2 separate regions of the Homo sapiens genome follow, and region 2 is linked to region 1. A link means that fine-mapping ties the variant in region 1 to the plasma level of a protein whose gene starts in the linked region. Region 1 holds a variant in brackets. A gene starts in the other region. All regions are shown on their reverse strands.

The links. PIP is the posterior inclusion probability: the model's chance that the variant is causal. The UK Biobank Pharma Proteomics Project read protein levels with antibody pairs (Olink). The fine-mapping took linkage between variants from a reference panel, not from the people measured, so its PIPs are less certain.
Region 2: it holds the start of SPINK2, and the variant in region 1 is fine-mapped to the plasma level of the SPINK2 protein (UK Biobank, PIP 0.99).

Annotation. Positions count from the first base shown.
Region 1 is chr6:407,802-413,179 of GRCh38, reverse strand. It overlaps IRF4 (interferon regulatory factor 4), which reads right to left. Exons shown (of 9, transcript NM_002460.4): 9 at 1,737-5,378. Among named protein-coding and RNA genes, the nearest start is that of IRF4, 19 kb to the right of the region's middle. RefSeq lists enhancers at 233-472, 553-612, 793-972, 1,343-1,492, 2,393-2,542 and 2 more. The variant AGAC/C (reference allele first, on the strand shown) is at 3,351.
Region 2 is chr4:56,820,785-56,826,162 of GRCh38, reverse strand. SPINK2 (serine peptidase inhibitor Kazal type 2) reads left to right here and starts at 4,462. Exons shown (of 4, transcript NM_001271718.2): 1 at 4,462-4,705. The coding sequence starts at 4,501. RefSeq lists a silencer at 4,361-4,620.

The DNA of each region.
Region 1 (5,378 bases):
GTTTTAGAGTTTTTAAAAATTATCTGGACTGAATCCTGAAGTTTTAGTTTCCTCTAATATCTGCTATGGCTCTTCAGACTAACATTCCCAACTTTCTCCCACCTTTCTGACTTGAAATCACTAGGAATTAAAACCGTGCCTTTCCTGAAGCCCTGCAAATGAAAGCTGAACAACTTGATATAAACTTTGGAGAAGTCATCACAATTTATTTATGGACAAAAACTTCACTGGAACGTCTGATGCAAACTATAATCCAGAAAAATCTGTCAGATTGCCACTGCCTGTCCACTCCAACTTAAAATTATTTGAACCCAAATCTAGAAATCTCAGCTGGTTGCTCTCCAGAAACTAGCTTATAGACTGCTTGAAACATAGACCTTTGTTTTCTTTTTATTTCCATACAAATGTCTCTGATAAAGTACCTGTGTGCCTACACCATATGGAAGACGTAACTCTTATGGAAGCCCACTTACACCACCTCTGAAATGGGATGCAATGATTTAACGGAACTGACCTATTTTCAGGACTGAAAGACTGATACAATAAGAGATGGAACAATGTACCCAAATTGGTTCCTTTCTGCTTGTTCCAAACTATGTTCTCCTCCTCCTTTGCCAAATCTCTTATCTTAAAACTTCTAACCCAAATCTCTCCAAAACTACCAACTTAGCTTTTAACATGTGAAACTTTCTGAAAGTAAAGCTTCAAGGGGGGACTGAAGGAAACCAAAATATTTCTCCCCAAAATATTGAGAATTGTTAAGTTAGGAACACAGAACTCACAGGGAAGCACTCTGCTGAAGCCTGTCTCCTGAGATCAGGACATAAATCCTTCCTTCCTGGGAACAGCGAAGGCAGCAGTGGAATCTGGGAACAGATTTTACTACCTTCTCTCATTTTTGTCCCCTTTTAAAACACTGGAGCTGCTGTCTCCTTTGTCTTATCACTATGCTAAGATTTATTGATCTTTGTTTTCAGGAAAGTTTCTCAACTGAACTTGTGAGGGTTTAGAAAAGAAATTTTACCATTTAGCAAAATCAAAATTATGCTAATCTACTATTCTAGGGGGGGTTCTAGATCCAAACTACAAACTTTTCTGACAGCTCTATGTAACCTTCAGCTGCAAGGATTTTAGCACCAGCAGCTGCAGCCTGGTTCTTTGAGTTTTTCTGCTGGACTGGAAGTTAGTAGGTGCATAGGAGCTGAGCCATGTAATCAGTAGAAGCGATGAAGCTGAGAAAGGAGACTCCCTTGCCTGGCTGCTCAGAGAGAGGAAGAGTTTGGAGCTGAGGTCAACAGCAGACGTACGGATCCCCAGGGGTTCCATCTAAATCCTGTTCTCTTTATCCAGTTTTCCATTTGATTTTCACATTTGGAGTGTTAGTTAACCTATATCCCTTCTTTTTAGCAATGACCAAAATCAGAGGAGCTTCGAATATAAACAAAAGAAAACATTAAAAACAACTTCCTTGAAAGCCCTAAACCTTTTAAAGTACAGATAAAGGAAGAGGAGGCAGATGCTAACGGGAGAGCAGGATGATTACTCTTCACAGACACTCCTCTGTGTGGGAGGAGCAGCCCGGCACTTGGCCAGCGTTTGTCTCTTTAACAAGGTGAACACTTGGAGATCTGATTTCAGAGACACGTACAGCAGCCTCTCTGAAGGAACGTAACCGCAGGAGAAAGTGCTTTAAAAGCTATCAGGATGCATGTTTAATAACACACACACACATTCCATAACAAATTTTTAAAAGTTTTTATTTACCTAAAAACATAAATTTATCAAACATATCAATTTGCTTTGCAGAGCAATTTACATAAAAATTCATGATGTATACCAACGACAGCATAGCATTATCTACCTCAGTTTGTGAAGCATCCTTTCCTACAGATCTCAGCAAAACGCAGAGCCAGTAGGGGAAATTCAAGCTTTCATTTGGGGGCCTCTGGGGTCCTACCTGCTGGCAGTTCTTTCAGCAGAAAGTGGGGTACGGGGGATGCTGAAGAGGGGGAAGTGGACCCCATTGCCTGTTAAGTCCCATCTGTCTCAGTTTGAAGCAACACGGGAATTTCCATTGGAGGAGGGTTGGCCTGCCGGCCTGGCCCTTCTCTCACGTCCCCTCTACTTCAGCTACATTTCTTATGCATGTTCCTCAAAGCTGTGAAAATCAATACAAAAAAAAACTGACCTTTACTTCATTCCTGTAACAGGCTATCAGGATCTCAAGGAGATCCACCTGCATCGAGATCAGTCTCAAAAACGGGGCATGTAAAACATAACTTACAAAATGGTGTGTAAGGTCTGAGAGCCTTCACGCACCATTCAGACAGATGCAGCTGGCCACAGAGGACTTGGGGAGATACGTAATACAAATAAAGACCTTAACCAATCCCAACACTTTCAGAAAAACTTTCACCTGTGGGGAAGTGGGGGCATGTGACTGGAGAGCAATGAACGGAAGTTTACACTGGATCTGAATTGTTACTAAAAAAGTAACTGACACGCACACACAAGTGGCCTTCCTGGCGGAGCATCAACAAAGCCAAGAGGTGCGAGTACCCAAGACTCCCAGAGTTGTTCCACCCCTGGGGCTAGCTGTATTTATGCCCTCGCTCAAAGACCAGCTTTTTCAAACACTAATACCTACCTGCCCTTGGTGGTAACAATACTGTAAGGGCTGCTCATTTCACTGTAGGATTTTACATTTTTCTCACCATGGCACAGTCTCTTTTTAGTTCATACCCAATAGTCTAGCTGGGTTTTCTGTAGGGCGACTAACTCTCCTGTTTTCGCTCAGGACTCAGGGGCTTCCTAGGTTTCAGTTGTAAATGAGTCGGTCACTTGGTTCTCTATAGTGTTCCAGGAGATATTAATTACTGCTTGAGGTTTTCCTAAATATACAAAATCTCAAGAACAAGACATAAACCAAGAAATGCACCTGGGAGACACATACATTTTTTCCATATGACCCAGTGCTCTTTAACAAGTCCTCAAATCTTCAACAGCACTGTCCACTGAGTACAAACTAAATTCTAGTTTGCCAATTCCACTTTATCAAGACAAGGAATGAGGAAGCCGTTCCTTTTCAGAGTCCTGAGACAAGTGCTAGGATTCCTAACCCTGAGTATTTCATAGCTAGTTCATTCCCTAGGTCATACCCTGGATCACTCAGAATTTTAAAAAGTCAACATACACATAGATGTAAAGATAGGAAAGGAGGTAGTGGCCCCAGCCAAGAAGCATTTTCCAGAAAATTCAGCTCCACTGTTAAAGCAGCATAATATTTAAAAAAACAAAGAAGAAGAAGTCACAAAGCAATTGAAATGGAGCATCCGCTTGGAGAATTAAGA[AGAC/C]AGGGTGCTCCTGAGACAGACTTCCAAGACAGCTTCTTTGAAGTGCTGTGTGGGGTTAAATATTCTTCAGCAAAGAGGGTCACAGGTAAGGGCCCCGTGAAACAGCAGTTCTTAATATCATCTTTATCTTCCCTTAGGATAATATACCCCAAAATACTTTGCATCTATAAGATGTATACATCACTGCAGTTCACGAAACACAGTCTGCTGCCCAATACATATCCATGTTGCATGGCTAATGAAATGTCAAACCCTACTGGGTACATGGCAGTGGAGCTCCACAGCAAGGCCTCTGAGCAGAACGAGGTAAATCTTCACTGTTAGCTACAAAGAGCACTGCATGAAAGTGTGTGCAAGATGACTCCATGAGGTTTTCTTTTTAAGTTTATGTATATTTACAGAAAAGTGAAATGTGTTGGAAGAATAAACACCCCTTCTTGTGGACACTTTTAGAGAGGAGAATTTGGGCTGGGAAAAAAGGAGATCCTTTTTATTTTTTTGCTGTTCTCTACTGTTTGTCTTTTCTGTAGTTAATATTAATATTAATTGTATTAATATTCTGACTTTAATATTAGAAACTTTTTAAACATTAAAAAATAATGTTTCAGTGCTCACTGCTCACTAAGCTTGATAAAGGCTGAACTGTGTAATGTAGGGATACAGCAGGCACTTACTAGGTGCTTGTTGAATGAATTTAAAATATCCATTAGAAAAGCAGGAACACACATTTGAGAGCTACGCAATCTTCTGCTGATCCTGGGAGTAATAGTAAATATCCTGTAGTATGAGAAACGGCCTGGAGGTGACGCCCCAGTCTACTGCTGTACTTTCTCAAAACCACAAAAATGTAAGTGATAGGTATACTTAAGCAAGTGGAGGTCTTTGGGATTCTATAAATAGAAGCATTTGGAAAAAGCCAAGTAATTTTAAGGCCCTGTCAAACTATAATTGGCACGAGGAAGCATAGAACAGATGAAATAAGCAGAAACAGCCCACTGAGTGTGCAGTTCCGTAGTCAGCTCCATCCTGCTTCCAGTGGTGGGTCCTGGCAGTGCTCTCCAGCCTGGGAGTCCCCGGCTCCTCCTCCTTTAGTGTCGCCATGGCTGATCGCTGGACAGCCAAACAAACAGAGGAGCGTGGCACAGAGGAAGGGAACAGATAGTTAAGTACTTGGACAGAAGGGCAACAGTTCAAGTATTAAGATTTATGTTCCTTAATTTCTTCTTCTTTATGCGAAGAATTTTAGCATCTCTAAAGAATGAGGGTCAAAAAGATGCAGAAACAAGAAAACTTAACCATTACTTAGACATTACTAGATTGTAGGACAGACAAAAATGTCCCATCCAAGAGTAGCGCTCATGTTTTTTGACTCAAGAAAATAGGAAGTTTACTAACTGGCTTCCAGGAAAGGCCAAGGAGAGAAAGCCAATGGGAAGGAGGGCGGGGCAGAGGGACCCACACCAGGAAACCGCTGGCAGGTGGGGGATGGGCCTCCCCAAGGCTACAGGCACGGCTTCAGTCAAAGATTCATTTCCTTCACTCAGCAAGTGTCTTCCACAAGAACTGCAGCTCCTACATACATTAATACATTTCTTTTACGTGTGAGGCTTCTTCAATTTACATCTTACTTCCCTGAGAAATGGCACAGACATACCTACAAGCAGTCATCACTCTAGTCAGTGTCAATACTGAAAGGCAAGTTTTCTCTGTCTTCCAGCAAGACCTAATCTACAACAAATTAAAGAGCGCATTTCAGTAAATGTAAACACATCACTTGGTCAATTTTCACAGTGATCATCAATGATGGCAGTCTACAGAACACAAGAAATGCAAAGCCACCCTTCCTTTTGAAATAAGCTCATCTGCCAATCAGATGTCACTGATTTTCCATGCTTGTCTCGCCGCAATTCTCCTCAACCGCTGAACTGAAATCTCCACTTCTGAATTCCTCAAAACAGTAAGAGGGCAGTCAATTGGACGCTTTCACTAAAGTCAAATATTTACAATGAAAATCACTTGTCTTGG
Region 2 (5,378 bases), not on the chromosome of region 1:
CTTTACTCTAGTTCCCAACAAGTTCCTCATCTCCATCTTAGACCACCTCAGCCTGGACCTTATTCTCCTTATCACTATCAGCATTTTGGGCAAAGCCATTCAGCAAGTCTCTAGGAAGTTCCAAACTTTCCCACATTTTCCTGTCTTCTTCTGAGCCCTCCAAACTGTTCCAACTTCTGCCTGTTACCCAGTTCCAAATTCACTTCCACATTTTTGGTATCTTTTCAGCAACGCCCCACTCTCCTGGTACCAATTTACTGTATTAGTCCATTTTCATGCTGCTGATAAAGACATACATGAGACTGGGAAGAAAAAAGGGTTTAATTGGACTTACAGTTCCACATGGCTGGGGAGGCCTCACAATCATGGTGGGAGGTGAAAGGCCCTTCTTACATGGCAGGAGCAAGAGAAAAAATGAGGAGGAAGCAAAAATGGAAACTCCTGATAAACCCATCAGATCTCCTGGACTTATTCACTATCATGAGAATGGCATGGGAAAGACTGGCCCCCATGATTCAATTATCCCCCTGGGTCCCTCCCGCAACACTTGGGAAATCCGGGAGATAGAATTCAAGTTGAGATTTAAGTGGGGACACAGCCAAACCATATCACCTACCTCTACAAAAAATACAAGAATATTAGCTGGGTGTGGTGGCGGATGCTTGTATTCCTAGCTACTTGTGGGGCTGAGGTGGGAGGATCGCTTGAGCCCAGGAGGTTGAGGCTGCAGTGAGCTGAGATTGCGCCACTGTACTCCAGCCTGGGTGACACAGCAAGATCTTCTCTCAAAAAAAAAAAAAAAAAGAATACAGTTATGCCCATTCATTGAGTTATAGTCTATGTCTCCTTTTGCACTGCAATGGCAGAGTTTAGTTGTGACAAGAAGTCAATGGTATTTACTATCTGGCCCTTTACAGAAAATGTTTTTTGACCCTTGTTCTTGGCTCACAAATGCTGAGACAACATGTGAAAAGCACCATGATAGAAAATATTTCTAAGGTATAATTATCAACATTTTTTTTTTTTTTTTGAGACGGAGTCTCGCTCTGTCACCCAGGCTGAAATGCAGTGGTGTGATCATGGCTCACTGCAGCCTCCACCTCCCAGGCTCAGGTGATCCTCCCACCTCAGCCTCCTAAGTAGCTGGGACTACAGGTGCGCGCCACCACACCAGGCTAATTTTTGTATTTTTTTAGAGACAGGGTTTTGTCATGTTGCCCAGGTTGGTCTCCAACTCCTGGGCTCAAACAATCTGCCCGCCTCTGCCTCCCAAAGTGCTGGGATTACAGGCATGAGCCACCCTGCCAGTCAGTGTCAACTCTTTGAAACAAAATAACCTAAAGGCAGCTGTATCCACACACATAAATTTATAAAAAATCTATCTTGAGGGGTAAATGGCTTTTCTTTTGAAGCTGAAATTCCTACTCACACACCTCTGAGCATTGCCCCTGAGTCTGGGTCAGATTTGTGTTCCCAGAGCATCAAAGGTGTTTGTAAGCAAGTGCACATGTCATTTGGTAACAGACATCCAGCACAGTTGAGAAAAGCTTTATATATAAATTATATTTTATCAATCCTTGATAAGAATCTTCAGCAAAATGACCCATGACCATTTCATGACTGTTATTCAAAGAACTGAATGTGATGTGACTTAGAGAAGTACTAACACTCATTTCAAATTTACCCCTTGGCCTCAGACAGGATTCCAGCCAGAACTCAGCCATGTGTGGTGCCAAGTGGAGTTAAAAACTGCACAGTGTCTTCTTGTTCCAGCCTTTGAGGTTGCTAAGGTCAAGGGTGGGCATGGGAACATGCCAGTCATAAGATGATTCTCCATCAGCTCTACAACCCCCTTCTACACTCTGCTATGTGGTGCCAGGTCTCAGCAGACCTCATTTCTGCTTTTTCAGCTGGCTTCCAGAAGGTTATGCCCATAGGGTCTGTCAGGGGGACACCGGAAGGCAGGAGGAGGGAGAAGGGACTGGCTCCTGCCTGCTGGCTGTTTCTTTCAGCAGTGCCACAGCAATGACTCTTCATCACTCTGATAGAATCAGCTGGCTCCAGTCTCCAGCATTTTTTTTTTTTTTTTTGAGACAGAGTTTCACTCTGTTGCCCAGGCTGGAGTGCAGTGGTGTGCTTCGCTCACCACAACCTCCACCTCCTAGGTTCAAGAGATTCTCATGAACCTGGGATTACAGGAGTATGGCACCATGTCCAGCTAAGTTTTATATTTTTTAGTAGAGACAAGGTTTCACCATGTTGGCCAGGCTGGTCTCGAACTCCCGACCTCAAGTGACCCACCCACCTCAACCTCCCAAAGTGCTGGGATTACAGGTGTGAGCCACTGCACCTGGCTCCAGTCTTCAGCTTTTCCACACACTCTTAGAGCCACCTGCATATCCAAGCAACACCCCCTTCCCATGGGTCTGAGTCCCAGCTTTCCAGGACCTCTCCTCCAAATTTCTAGTTCTGAGAATCCCAACCTAATCCGTTTGTTCCCCTAGATCGAGGCATGATGCCTACTTCCTAAAGGCTTTATCTCTGTGTTACCTCGTTTTCCCTTTCTGCTTTTTTCAGTTATCCCTACTGGATTAGCCAATTCCTTATACTAAATTATCTCTGGTGAAATACCTAGTAAACCTTGTGTTTTCCAGACTGGACCCTTACTGATAAGGCAACATGTCACAGAATCATTTGACACACAGGCATAAGAAGCAGAAAAAAAAAAAAGTGGATCTGCTAATGCACTTTTTTTTTTTTTTGACAGAGTCTTACTCTGTCGCCCAGGCTGGAGTGCAGTGGCACCATCTCGGCTCACTGCAACCTCTGCCTCTTGGGTTTAAGCAATTCTCATGCCTCAGCCTCCCAGGTAGCTGGGACTACAGGTGCGCACCACCATGCACAGCTAATTTTTGTATTTTTAGTAGAGATGGGGTCTTGCCATGTTGGCCAGGCTGGTCTCAAACTCCTGGCCTCAAGTGATCTACTTGCCTCAGCCTCGCAAAGTGCTGGGATTACGGGCATGAACCACCGTGCCTGGCCAAATTTTTTTGACATGGTCTCATTTTGCCACTGAGGCTGGAGCGCAGTAGCTCAATCTCAGCTCAATGGCCACACCTGGCTAATTTTTGTACTTTTTTTAGAGACGGGGTTTTGCCCTGTTGCCCAGGCTCCTCTCAAACTCTTGAGCTCAAGTGATCCACCAGGCTCAGCCTCCCAAAGTGCTGGGATTAGAGGCGTGAGCCACCACGCCTGGCCTTAATGCACTAACTTGCTCAGCCTCTTTGGCAAAAATTATTTCTCACAGAAGTAATGAGTAGAACAGTAGTTACTAGAGGCTGGGAAGGATAGGGGGATAGGGAGAGGTTGGTTAAAGTATACAAAATTACAGCTAGGTAGAAAGGATAAGTGCTAGTGTTTCATAGCATTGTAGGGTGCCGACAATTAACAATAATATATTATAAAGGTCGAGCACGGTGGCTCAAGCCTGTAATCCCAGCACTTTGGGAGGCCAAGGTGGGCGGATTGCTTGAGCCCAGGAGTTTGAGAGTAGCCTGGGCAACATGGTGAGAACCCCTCTCTACAAAAAATGCAAAAATTAGCTTGGCATGGTGGCATATATCTGTGGTCCCAGCTACTTGGGAGGGAGGCTGAGGTGGGAGGATCACTGGAACCTGGGAGGTGGAGGTTGCAGTGAGCTGAGATCGTGCCACTGCACTCCAGCCTGGGTAAAAGAGCGAGACCCTGTCTGAAATTTAAATAATAATAATAATTTATTATGTATTTTCAAGTAGCTAGATGAGAGGATTTTGAATGTTCTCAACACAAAGTAATGATAAATGTTTGAGGTGATGAATATGCTAATTATCCTATTTTGATCACTACACATTGTATGTATCCAAATATCACTATGTACCCCCATAAATATGTACAATCATTATGTGTCAACTCAAATAGTTAAAAAATATATTAAAAGAGGGAAAGGCAGAACGCTTCCTGAGAGCAAGGACCTCCTTTGTCGAGGTCAGGGCTGTGTCTTCAGCAACGAAACACTATCTGGGACTTAGTACATGCTTAAGAAATAGGTGTTGATTGACAGAGCTCCCAAGAGCTCCACAAGGGTCCCCCTAGGACTGTCACAGGTTCTTGTATGTCGGAGGGAGAGGTCTTCCCCTTCGTCTCCTTGGGGGGAGGGGAAGGTGTTGGGGAACAACTGCCCCTTCCTCTATCTCCCTCGCCCCTCCTTCCCCATGGCCCCCTCCCCCGTCCTTCTACCTTTCTCCTTCCCAGCCCTTTCCGGTTCTCCCCCGACCCTTCACGGCTCCTCTTCCCGCCGCTCCTCTTCCCGCCGCCCCTCTTCCCTCGCCACCTACCGCTGCTTTTCCTCCCATTCTCGCCCCGCCCCTTCCCCCGCCCTCCCCGCGCCCCGTCGCACGAGCGCTCCCTGCGAGTGGCGCAGGTAACAGACCGCAGGGGCAAGACAGCCGGCGCGGGAGGAGGATGGCGCTGTCGGTGCTGCGCTTGGCGCTGCTGCTCCTGGCAGTTACCTTCGCAGGTAGCGCTCGGAGCGGTCCTGGCGAGCGGGGACCTCCGGAGAAAAGCGGGTTTGGGAGTCAGACCGGCGGCGGACCCTGCCCTGCTCCGGGCGGCCTCGGCGACGGTACCCGCGCGCCCGTTACTGGCGGTTCCCCAGAGGACCTGCCAGGTGGAGGAACGCGAACTGGGGGTTGTGGGGGTGGCTTTGTGGAGTCAGCCACCCTCTTTAGTTCTTGCTTGGGCTTCGCTCCCAGCTCTAAGGACACCTGCCATCTAGAGCGCTTTCTCTGTTAAAGTAGATTTTCAGGTGCCCAAGATGAGGAGTTGAGTTTTTATGTATGGTCCCAAGGGAGGAGATGTGCAGGAATGAGGAATTGTGGATGCTTACGAGAAAGGGGCTTTAGTCCAACCACACTGGACACCTCTCTTAAAATGGAGTTAAAATGCTCACATCTTATATTAAATTTTGTATTTGTTACCCCGAGTTGTAAAGGAAAATAACATCATGAACTATTAATTAAGGGTTACTTCCTTGGCCAGGTGTAGTGGCTTGGGCCGGTAGTCCCAGTTACTCCGGAGGTTGAGGCGGGAGGCTCGCTTGAGACCAGGAATTGAAGCTGCAGTGCGCTAGCGCGACTTTTATTCCATAGCTTCAAAGTCCTTTCTCAACCAACCCTAATGGGAACAGAACCAAATGTTATTTCTATGTGCTTTTGGGGAGAGGTGCCATAAAAAACTGAATATCCTTTCTGGGGGAAGTGGGATGGGGACAGTTTAAAGAAGGTAGGCATTAGAGGGGAAAATAGAAGATGTGGCCTGGATAAATCCCAAACTGGATTTTA